3 linked regions of the Homo sapiens genome follow. The protein of the gene in region 1 interacts with the protein of each later gene in a pairwise test. Each region holds a gene or a part of one and is shown in the gene's direction. Other genes may lie near its edges.

Region 1 (3,654 bases):
ATAAGAAAACTAGCTTGCAGACATGCTGCAACGCAGCAGACACACAATGGACATGTTACTGCATGTTAGTTACCACCCCCCTCCCATGTGCTATGCACATCATATCTGTTTTGATTCCTAATATTTAGGGAGGACTTGAAACACTAAAAAAAAAGAAAAATCATGATGAGAAAAATGGTTAGATTTGTTTACCCTAGAGAAGAGAATGTAAAAATTGCTTTTACCTGTTTGAAAGACAATCAATAGATAAGGGAAATGTATTTTCAAGGCTTAGTTTAAGGACCCTGGTAGAAGTTAAAGAGTCGCTAAAAGGTAGATTTCATTCATGCATTATTTTATGCCATCTGTGTAGCAGATCTAGGGGATGAACAGGACAGATAAAAATCAATATAGGAATACAGGAATTATGTGAACACCAGTTATTGATACCCAGCAATGCCATAGGCTGTTTTGTAAACTAATGAGGTTTCATTGATAAGTGGCCAAATATTACTAAGAGGGGATTTCGATATTGGGTGAGATAATTGAGTGGTGACATTTACTATTGTTTCCATAATTCTAAATGTTGAAAATATATTTAGTCTTTTATGATGTAAAATGATATTTATGAAGCACATTCCTGAAAGGTGCTGCTAAAATGCCTTGACAGGTTGCTTGTTTATGGATTTTCATTTTGCAGAGTTCATAAATCTCAGTCATTTTCAGAGGAATCACAAGCTACTAATGAGAAAACTTACAACTTTAGGGTCTTGTGAAAAAATAATTGAAGAGTAATAGGGAACAGGTTTATAGACCTGAGGCAAAAACTTTTTCAGGGAGTTCTACGATTTTGAGGACTGTCTCTATTCTGTTTATGTCCATAATATTTTCACTACATTTCATGAATTGTTTATATTCTGCCTTGGAACCTAAAGGGACCAGGAGTTTGGCCAGTTACAGAAGGTAAAACAATTGAATATACTTACGATTTATCCGCTTGTGGACCGAGGTTCTTTTCCATTCCAGTTTCATCCCTACTGGGGTATTCCTAACACTGTTCCCCGTTCTGCCCCTTTCCCCTCAACAGATATCTTGGCATTATACTTCCTAGAGAATATGGAGGTACTCTTGAGATTTTTTAGTTACTTCCTCCCCCTTAAAAGATTATTTAAAAATATCTTTCTCAAACTTTTCCTTCCATTCTCAGGGGAAGAAAGAGCTTTCTTTCTAAGGTTAACTTTCTTGCTGTGCTTTTTATTATCCCTTGACCAGTTAGCCTCCCTTGTTCTGACTCCTCTAGTGATTCCTTTTTGTTTTTACTGGCTGCAGACATTTTTCATTCTCCTTTATGCTGAAAAATATATAAAAACCAAAACAATAACAAAACCTACTCCCTACTATTCCCTGTTACTCTCTTTGAGAACAGATGCCTCAAAAGAATAACCTATTTCCAGCCAGGCACGGTGGCTTATGCCTGTAATCCCAGCTACTCAGGAGGCTGAGGCAGGAGAATCACTTGAACCCTGGAGGCGGGAGGTTGCAGTGAGCACCACTGCATTCCAGCCTGGATGACAGAGGGAGACTCTGTCTCAAAAAATTAAAAAATGAATAAAAAAGAATAACCTATTTCCTAGTCTGTTCATTCTTTACCACCCCTTGCAGTTTCTACACCTTCTGCCCTATTGCACTTCTAAAAATGTTATTTTATTTATATGTGTATATATGTATTTTCTTGAAATATAATCCTATACCGTACAAATTACCCATTTAAACTGTACAAATCAGTCGTTTTTAGTATTTGCAGAGTCATGAAACCATCACAATTTTCAGTGTCTCTAATAAACAACTAATCACCAATTAAAGTAAACTTTCCTTAGTTCCTTGTCCTTTAACTTTTCTTTAGCATTTGTCACTGTTGACTACCATCTCTGGTTTAAAGCTGACATCCCATGGTTTGTTTTGCAACAAAGGATGCAAATTTCCCTACTTCTTGGACCAGTCTTTTTCCCTTTCTCTAATTTGGTGATTCTTAGTCTGCAAGTGGGTAAATCATAAGTGCATTCAAGTCTGTTTTACCTTCCTGTCACTGGGCAAACGCTCGCCTTTGGTGATTCTTCCTACTTGGTACAAGTTCACAGAGTTCTGTACCCAGACCCCTTCCTTCTTCACTCTCCATCCCTCCATCCGTCAACATGACTTTATAGTTATCACCTCTGTGTAGATGAACCCCAAGTAGATATGTTCTGTAGAGACTTCAACTGGCCTATTTATCTGTCTGATAGATATTTCCACAAAAGGATCTTAAAGTTCTTCAAGCTTAGTATTTATAGAGCCAAATTCTTTTCCTCCCTCCTTATCAAAACCAGCTTTTTCTCTTGTCTTATCCATTTGTCTTTTTAGTATCACCCTCTGTGTCAGTCAAACTTGAAATCATCTTTTTCCATTCTTTGCCTCATGGCCAATTATGACACACACACCCCTTGTTCCAGCTGCCATTGTGTGGAGACAGGTGTATTAGGCATTACTTGAACTGCTACTATAATCTCCTAACTCTTCCTCTTTCTGCATACCTCTAAACAGCCCTTACCTCATTATGTTCTCTCCCCTTACATGCGTTATTATTTGTGGCACTTAAGATTCCCTGACAAATATTCATATATTTCTTTCTTATTGTCTCTCCCACTAGAATGTAAGCTTCCTGGGGCAAAGACCTTACTTATCTTGTGCCCTGCCATGCCATTAAGGCCTGGCTCATAGTAAATGCTCAGGAAATATTTAAATGAAAAAGTACATGGAAAACTGTTAGGCGTATGTATATTAAAGTAGCAATTCCCAACTGTGAATAAATTGCTAAGATGTGCTAAGATATTGATTCCCTCAGCCAACTGTCCAGTTGCCTTCTGTTCTATAAGAATATATGTACATGTTTAACACTTATTAATAATCAAACACCAGAAACATTTACATGCCCAAACAGTAGAATGTATAGATAAAGTGTGTTGCATTCATAGGATATAACTGTACTGTACAGCAGACTTTCTCAGCTTTGGCACTATTGACATGTTGGACCAGATAATTTCTTGTCATGGGGGATTGTTCTGTGCACTGAGGACATTCAGCAACATTCCTGGCCTCTACCCACACTAGATGCCAGTGGCAACCCCCCAGTTAGGAAAACCAGAAGTGTCTTCAGACATTGCCAAATGTCCCCTGGGGGGCAAAATTGTCCCAGGTTTAAAAACCACTGCTCTGCGGCAGTGAGAATGAACAAATACTGCTTTATGCAACAACAGGAATGAATCCCATGAACTTAATATTGAGCAGAAGAAACCAAATGTAAAAGTGGTACTGTGTCATCGCACAGTCCTTCAAAAACAGGCAAAACAAATTGATGGAAATAGAGGTCAGAATAGTTATCTTTGGGAGGATAGTCACTAGGAAAGAACGAAGAGAGCTTCTGGAATGTTGGTACTGTTCTCTTTCTCAACTGAATAGTGTTAACACAGGTGTGTTTACTTTGTGAAAAACAATCAGCCATACACTTATAATTAGTTCACTTTTCTTTTTGTATGCTATAATTCAAATCACAGTGTTGTAATTTATGAAAGCAGTACCCACACATAAGCAAGTATTCCTTGGCTATCGAGGGATTGATGAAGATAAGGAGTCCTCCTG
Region 2 (3,754 bases), on another chromosome or scaffold:
GCCAAGGGGAACCGTGACGAGTTGTAAGGTGGTACCCTGGATGGGGTCTTGGGACAGAAAAGGTATGTGAGGTGAAAGCATAGCAAAACCTCACTTCAACAGGAAATACAACCCAAAAAAATAATTGGCCGGGCATGGTGGCTTGCGCCTGGGGTCCCAGCGACTCGGGAGGTTGAGCGGGACGGACGGCTTGAGCTCAGGCCTTCCAAACAAGCCTGGGCACATAGCGAAACCTCGTCTCTCCAAAAAAATCCGAAAATTATCCCGATGTGGTGGCGCTCACCTGTAGTCCAGCTACTCCGGAGGCCGAGACAGGAGAATCACTTGAACTGATTCTCCTATCTCAGCCCCCCCCCCCCCCCCGCCCCACCCCAAGTAGCCGCAGCGAGCCGAGATGGCACCGCTGCACTCCAGCCTGGGCTACAGAGCGAGAACCCGTCTCTGTAAAAGACACAAGGATGCAAACCAACCAAATAACCCACTGTGGGATCCCCTCCAGCGTCCTGCTGTGTTTCCCGCTGTCTTCCTCCACCCGTGAGTGCACCCACAGCAATAAAAGCCAGCGGTGTGGGTCTCACACGCATCTCCAGCCCCGTCGCCATCGCGCTGAGCTCGACTCTTTTTACAAAAGGCCACTTGACATCCTCACTTGGCAGTTCAAAAGCCCCTTCAACCAGATGTGCGCAAGCCAAGCTCCGCAACTTCCCGTTCAGAGCAGGTTCTCGGTCCACCTCTGCCTGAATGAACCGGCGGGCTACCAAGGCCGCAGTCTCTTCCTCAAGGGCTGTCCACACTGGGTCTCGCTTTCTCTTGGAAATTTCTCTCCCACCAGGGAACTTTCTCCTCCTCTACCTCCCTGAGTCTCAGTCTAACAGCACCCTGCGCCCAACCCCGAGGGCTGCAATAGCCTTCTTGCCTCTCCTGACTTATTCTGCGGACCCTGGGTTGGCGCTCCTTCACAGCCAGGCTGGTCGTTTCTGAAATGTTAACCCGCTGCCGGACACCGTTCCACGGTTTTCCGCTGCCTTGGAACAAGACCAGCTCCTGCGCGGACCCTGCCTCCACCTCGCACCACCTCCGGGCCTGGACTTGGCCTCCCGTCCATTCCCAGAATGTGCCGGGCTCCCTTCCAGTCCGGGCCTCAGCACACTCTCTTCACTCCCCTTCCTCCCTCCCTGCCTCTCCCAACCCGGTTCAGGATGACTAATTTCAAACGTTATGTTCCAGATTTCAGCCCAGATATCCCCGCTTTGGATGCTTTCCTTGACCATGCTCAGATCTAAGCTAATCGCATCTTCCTGTCAGCCGCTTTCAGGGCACCACACCTCATTGTGCTGACACTCAGAGGTCATTATGCAATTTTTTTTCCTCGATGATTAGATTAATCAATCAACCACGGACGTCTAGAAATGGCGGCATCTCAGAAGGGCCCCCATTTGACTGGCAGGGGACTGGCCCAATGCGCCTCGCAAGCCCAGCCAGGCCCGCCCCAGCCGGCCCCCCTCTGACGACGCCTGTCCCTTACGCGACTGCCTTGCTGCCATATAAGAGGGACGGCGCTCGGCCTCCAGCAGTCGGCTTTCTGCTGGGCTCGGAGCCAGAACCTGCTGCGTGCTCCCTCCAGACTCCCTGGCTGCGGGTGGACTACCTCAGAGCTACAGCGGTGAACCTGTGGACACCTCCGACTCCTCGGGCCTCTCTTCGTCGAAGAGTCTCCTAATTTTCAGATCTCCGGAGCCAGCTGTGGGAAGATCAGGTGTGTGTCTGGGGGTCCCGGAGGCGTGGACGGATCTCGGGTGGGTGCAGTTGGGGACAGAATCCTCATTCCCCTAGAAAGGCCACGGCCATCCCCCTGCCTTGTCACCTCTGTCTTCCTAAATCCGTTCTTGCTCTCTTGTTTTTCTCCCCAGCCCCTCCCGCCGATTGCTCATGGAGGAACCAAGGCCTTCGAAGCGACTTCGCTCCATGGCCCCTAATCAAGGTACATCAAACGCCTGCCACTCCTCTCTTTTTAATTTCGTCTGTTCCCCAATTCTTCCCCAATGGTTGACACTCAAACTCAATCAAGCATTCTCTGTTTCACCTTCTCCTAGCCTGCCTCAACCTGGGCTGCTTGTTGGAAGTCAGCTCCCGGGTTCCACATCATCTGGGAAATTCCTTTCCCTCTTCCGAACCGTAATCCCATTTCCCAAATCTGAGATTTGCTGTTGTTGTCGCTGTTTCCTTCTGTTTAGTTTTGTATTACTGTTTCTCCGTAGCAGAGCGAGTCCTCACGCTACGTCTTGATCTATGATAAACCGGTACTTCCACCTTGTTCTTTCCCGGAGGAGTTGGAATTTTCCGGCTGTTGCCACGTTGTTCTCCAAAACATTTCCCTTCATACGCTGAGTGTCCTAAATCTTTTAATCTTGTCTAGTTTGACAGATGCATAACAATAAAGCATCCACTGAAAGGAAATTCTTTAACATCTTGCTTGTCTGAAACATCTTCATTCTCCCCTCCCAGATTCTTCAGCGAAACTTCGGTTGGACAGGAAATTTTAGGTGGGAAATTCATTTCCCTTGAAATTTCGAAGACATTTTCTGTTATGTTCTAGACTGAACTGCTGCTTTTGAGATGTCTGACTTTTGAGACATGTGGAATCCTAGCCCTTTCCATGTGACTTTTCCTTTCTCTGTCTCCCGCTCTCTAGAATCTGTTAGAATCTTCTCTTTTTCCTCAGCACTCTGAAATTTTCTGGTGAAATGTCTCAGCCACAGCATACCTCTAATTCTCTTATATTTCATCCTTCTTTCCATCATTTTAGGTTTTTGCTTTGTTCTGTGGGAGACCTTCTCAACTTCATTCTCCAACTTCCGTGGAGAGTTTTGTTTCTTCTCTCACAATTTTAACTTCAGAAATCCCTCTTTTCTCTGAGTATTTATTTGTAAAAGTATCCTATAACTGCTTGACGGGTGAAGTTCCTTCTGTCTCTCTCTGCTCACGCTCCGCTTCTCTTTTAGCCTCAGGTGGGCCTCCTCCAGAGCCAGGCTGCTGTGTTGCGGACCCTGAAGGCTCCGTGGAAGCAGATGGGCCCGCACAGCCAGCCCAACCCGCAAAACCCATCGCTTACGTGAAACCCTTCAGACGGCAGCCCCCAGCTCGCCCAGAGTCACCCCCTCCTGCAGAGAGAGGCCGGCGCCGGGGAGGAAGCCGGCGGCCAGGGCGAGGCCGTGGCAGAAGGGCTGGGCCCCGCGGGGACGCTGGCCAGAGACAGGGGGCAGAAGGCTTGATGGCACCGGACGTGCACATCCAACTGGACCACCATGGAGAGCCAGGCCACCAGGGGGAACCGGAAATCACGGAGACCGCAGCCTTCTCCCTTTCTGAAACAGGTCCTCCGCCTGGAACTGTGCAGGAAGGCCCTGGCCCCGACGTGGCGCAACCTGAGCTGGGGTTTCAGGAGCCGCCCGCTGCTCCTGGGCCTCAGGCTGTTGACTGGCAACCCGTCTTGACCCTCTATCCCTGCATCGGGTTTAGGGCTCTGGGTGACTCAGCGGTTTTACAAGTCATTCAAACCCCCCAGGGCACCTACGTGCAAGGGGTCCCAGTGTTCCTCACCGACATTGCGTATTGACCACTATCTGCCACCCACGTTGTTCCCAGCCTCCCTTCCTTCCACCTGGACGTTCCCCCCAGCCCCACTTCTGCTCCACTCCTCCCCCGACTGGACCTGAAGCCTGAGCTTCCCCTGAACTTGGAGTACGCAACTTAC
Region 3 (3,654 bases), on another chromosome or scaffold:
GAATATTATCTAGTTCTAGCCTATTGCAAATTTTAGAATATATTTAAAACTTTTAAACTATGCTATGCAAATATCCATGGTAACTTGAAAAGAGAGACTTTTCATAATAGACATTCAATGTTTGAAACTTTTTTTTGGAAAATGCATCATTTGATATTATTACTAACTCTGGATAATGTTTAGTAAGGTCTTACTGGGTGCCAGGCACTGTTCCATATGTGTCACATCCTATTTTATTTGATTTTCTTAACACCATGTAAGTAATATGTTATTACTACCTACTTAAAAAGCTTGGGAGCTCAGAGACAAAGCCACTTTTGCAGTCATACCTGGTAAGTAGTGCAGTGAAGGTGGGCACCCAAGTTGAGCTGACTCCAGAGACAAAATTTGAAACCATTATGCCATACTGCTCCAAGCATCCACTTCATAAAACTGTGTGAAGATTTGATGTATTTTACTACTTTATGTTTATTTATCCAAATCTTTGTTACTACTTTTACTACTTTATGTTTATTTACCCAAAAATTAATTTTAAAAAATTTAAATTTAAATTAAAAATTAAATTTTAAAATTTAATATTTTAGTAGGCATAAAACTAGGATGTTACTTTGGTCCATAGTACTCTGAAAAATTACCTTTTTCATATTATACTGTAGTTGTCCATTTGTTTGCTTTTCTCCCTTCACAAGGCAGTAAGATCCTTGAAATAAGAATTTTGCCTTAATTTTTGAGTCCTCAACATTGAGCATACTGCTTGGTACGTAATAGGATCTTTTAAAAAATCTGTGTTGAACAAATTAACAAGAAAAGGCAGTGTTAAAAGGATGCTTTGGTTAAGCTTTTTCTTCCTTGAAATAGGTTGATACGCTCATAATGATGTACAAAACTCACTGCCAGTGTATCCTGGACAATGCAATTAATGGAAACTTTGAAGAGGTAAGAATGACAAAGAATGCTTTATTTGACCCTATTATATATACTTTCATGTTCTGTTCTTAATGAGTTCATGTTAAAGAAAAAAATCTTAACATACTTTTTACTCTGCAACTAGATCCAGCATTTTTTATTACACTTTTGGCAAGGAATGCCTGACCATCTCCTTCCCCTGCTCGAAAATCCTGTTATCATTGATATTTTCTGTGTTTGTGACTCAATTCTTTATAAGGTAAGCACTTTGGGATGTCTTAAACATGAGCCATTTATTTCTTTACGTAGCATTCTATCTAAATTCTTGCAATATATTTTCAGTAAATATGTTATTTATGGCTGGATATACACTGTCTTTTTTTTTGATGAGAAAGCAAGCAATTTAATAGTGCACGTTTAATAGTGTATGTGTTTTAATTGAAGTTTACATTAAGTAAAACAAACTCAATTTCTTTTTACAGCTAATAATGAGTCTATATGTGACACACTTATTAATATGTGAAAACTTAGTTAAATTTTATTAACTCTCTAAGGTGTTTTCAGATTAAAATAACACAGTGGATTTTTTTTCACAATGCCAGTGTTTTGGCAGAAAGCAGAATTAGGCACCCTTATGAGATTAATAACTTGAAAATCTCAAAAACCTCTAACTTTAATGCATTAATGTCTAATTCTCTTCTCAAACCAAATCAGAGTTCCTAAGTGTCTGCAGAAGGATCTCGAAGACATCCTAAATAAGGACAAACTGATTGTCCTTCTAGGCAAACATTTAATGGAAGACAGAAAGAGGCTAATTCTTGACAGTCTCTTCCCTGGTGGCTACAAGTTCTAAGCTGATGGATAAAACTATATTGCAATGTGGGTACTTTAAAGTGAGTTTGCCTACATTTGCTTTCTAACTTACCATAAGGAAAAACAAAAGCTTTCCTTTTAAAAAATAATCTGAGTTGGCAAGAAAACCCAAGCTGGACGCTGTTAAACATTTAGGAAATAAAATCCTTCTAAGTTAGTTGCCACTATCAGATTCTCAGCTTTGCAGAAAAGTAAAGCAAAAGCTATTTATAGATAAACTAAGTCCAGAAGCCCCTAAGCAGACCAAGAAGTAATGAGACAACTTGAATAAGAGAGTGCATATTTTTATCCTCTGTCCAGTACTTCCTCATCACAGGATAGGAGAAAGGAGGAATAAAGTACAATATATTTTCTGCCTTTAGTTCAAGTTCAAGTTGAAAAAATTTCAGAGGAGAGTAAGGATTGTCTTGTTTTTTTTTTTTTTTCTGGATTGAATATGAATGCCATTATTTAGAGAAAAACAGTTTAATTTGCATTAATTGTTTGTAATGCTTAACACTTGACAAGGCTCCCAAAAGGGGAGGGGAGGCAGCTCCGTGAGTGAGTATAAGAAAAGACCTGGGGCTCATGCACACAAATTTCCATCAGACCAAAGCTTTTTGGACTGTCATTCAGTTTGTCCAAGAAATACTTTTAAAACACACTTCTCCCTTTAAGTGATCTGTTTTTTTTAGTCTAGTATAAACATCCTGACTTTAAATATCTTTAAATGAACCTGGTTTCTCCTCCTCATGGTGGACCCAGAGAGGCACAGTGAGCTCTGTAAGTAGAACGGTGTAAGATGAGCTTCTACAAAAATCTTCCTCCCACCTCTAGAAAGTGGTCAGCTTTTCATCATAAAACGGTATATGATTACCATGGACCAATCCATTGGTAATTAACATACTGAGCATGTACATATACAGTGCTATCTCTTGTTTTTATTGTCATACACACTCACACACAACTCATACATACATTCATTTTGGAGATAAAATTATAACTTTGAGAAAGGAGTTAACATGTTATTCTCTAGGAAGCTAGGAATAAAAAGTAGTTGACCAATAATATGTCTTTCTATAGAAATACTAAGTAAAGATTTGTATTAACCTCTTTTGCTATGATTAAGGTTCTTACAGATGTACTCATTCCTGCAACAATGCAAGAAATGCCTGAAAGGTATGTTCAGTTAATAAAACATGAGCATTCCTAGTATAGGATTTAACTTTATACATTATATTAGAAGAAAACATTAGGTAGTAATTTATTCATTTATCAAGAAGACTATTTTCTACTTTTGTCCCTTTGTATTTGCTGGAAGAGATGTGTCTTATAGCTGGGCCTCAATAAACAAAATGGGTGAAACAATCCTTCAATCCCTTTAATTTGAGAGCGGCTAAAGTGAAAAATAGATTTAAGCACTGTTGATCTTCGAGAAATTTTTCAATGGAAACTAGCTGGAGTATGATAAAAAAGATAATTAATGGAAAATAACCACAAGAATAAAAACTATAGGAGAAATTATTGTATTTTATTATTAACTTTTGTCTTAATTACAAAATCAGAAAGTGGCATGATGAAATTACTGCCTTCTTTTAACAAAGGAATAAAATCTCAAATAGTTTATTGAAACAATACCAGAAGATTTTTCAAAAAAAAAAAACCTTTTCAATATAAGAACAATAGAATTCTGAAAAAAAAAAGCCAACTTTTTCTCTGAAAACAAAATCTAATGAAATGATAAAATTTATTTTAGTATTTTGGGGGTACAAATTCATATAGGACTGGACATAGTTGGTGCTCCAAAAATAGATGTTGCTTGGTAAAACAAATTTTACTTTTTATTTACCTTTTCCTCCAGATTATTTCATCTATATGATAGTTGGTATTAGCCTG

Evidence for each region.
Region 2: the proteins of CCNK (region 1) and PRR20B interact in a two-hybrid assay, tested with the Homo sapiens proteins (one large-scale study listed by BioGRID).
Region 3: the proteins of CCNK (region 1) and RFX6 interact in a two-hybrid assay, tested with the Homo sapiens proteins (one large-scale study listed by BioGRID and IntAct).

Annotation. Positions count from the first base shown.
Region 1 is NC_000014.9:99,484,282-99,487,935, forward strand, and holds part of CCNK (cyclin-K), read left to right. Parts: intron 1-2,171; exon of another isoform or gene 2,172-2,177; intron 2,178-3,654. UniProt on the Homo sapiens protein: Regulatory subunit of cyclin-dependent kinases that mediates activation of target kinases.
Region 2 is NC_000013.11:57,145,946-57,149,699, forward strand, and holds the start of PRR20B (proline-rich protein 20B), read left to right. Parts: upstream 1-1,542; 5' UTR 1,543-1,756; intron 1,757-1,910; 5' UTR 1,911-1,929; coding exon 1,930-1,981; intron 1,982-3,002; coding exon 3,003-3,616; 3' UTR 3,617-3,754.
Region 3 is NC_000006.12:116,915,150-116,918,803, forward strand, and holds part of RFX6 (DNA-binding protein RFX6), read left to right. Parts: intron 1-858; coding exon 859-936; intron 937-1,051; coding exon 1,052-1,165; intron 1,166-2,887; coding exon 2,888-2,937; intron 2,938-3,654. UniProt on the Homo sapiens protein: Transcription factor required to direct islet cell differentiation during endocrine pancreas development. Specifically required for the differentiation of 4 of the 5 islet cell types and for the production of insulin.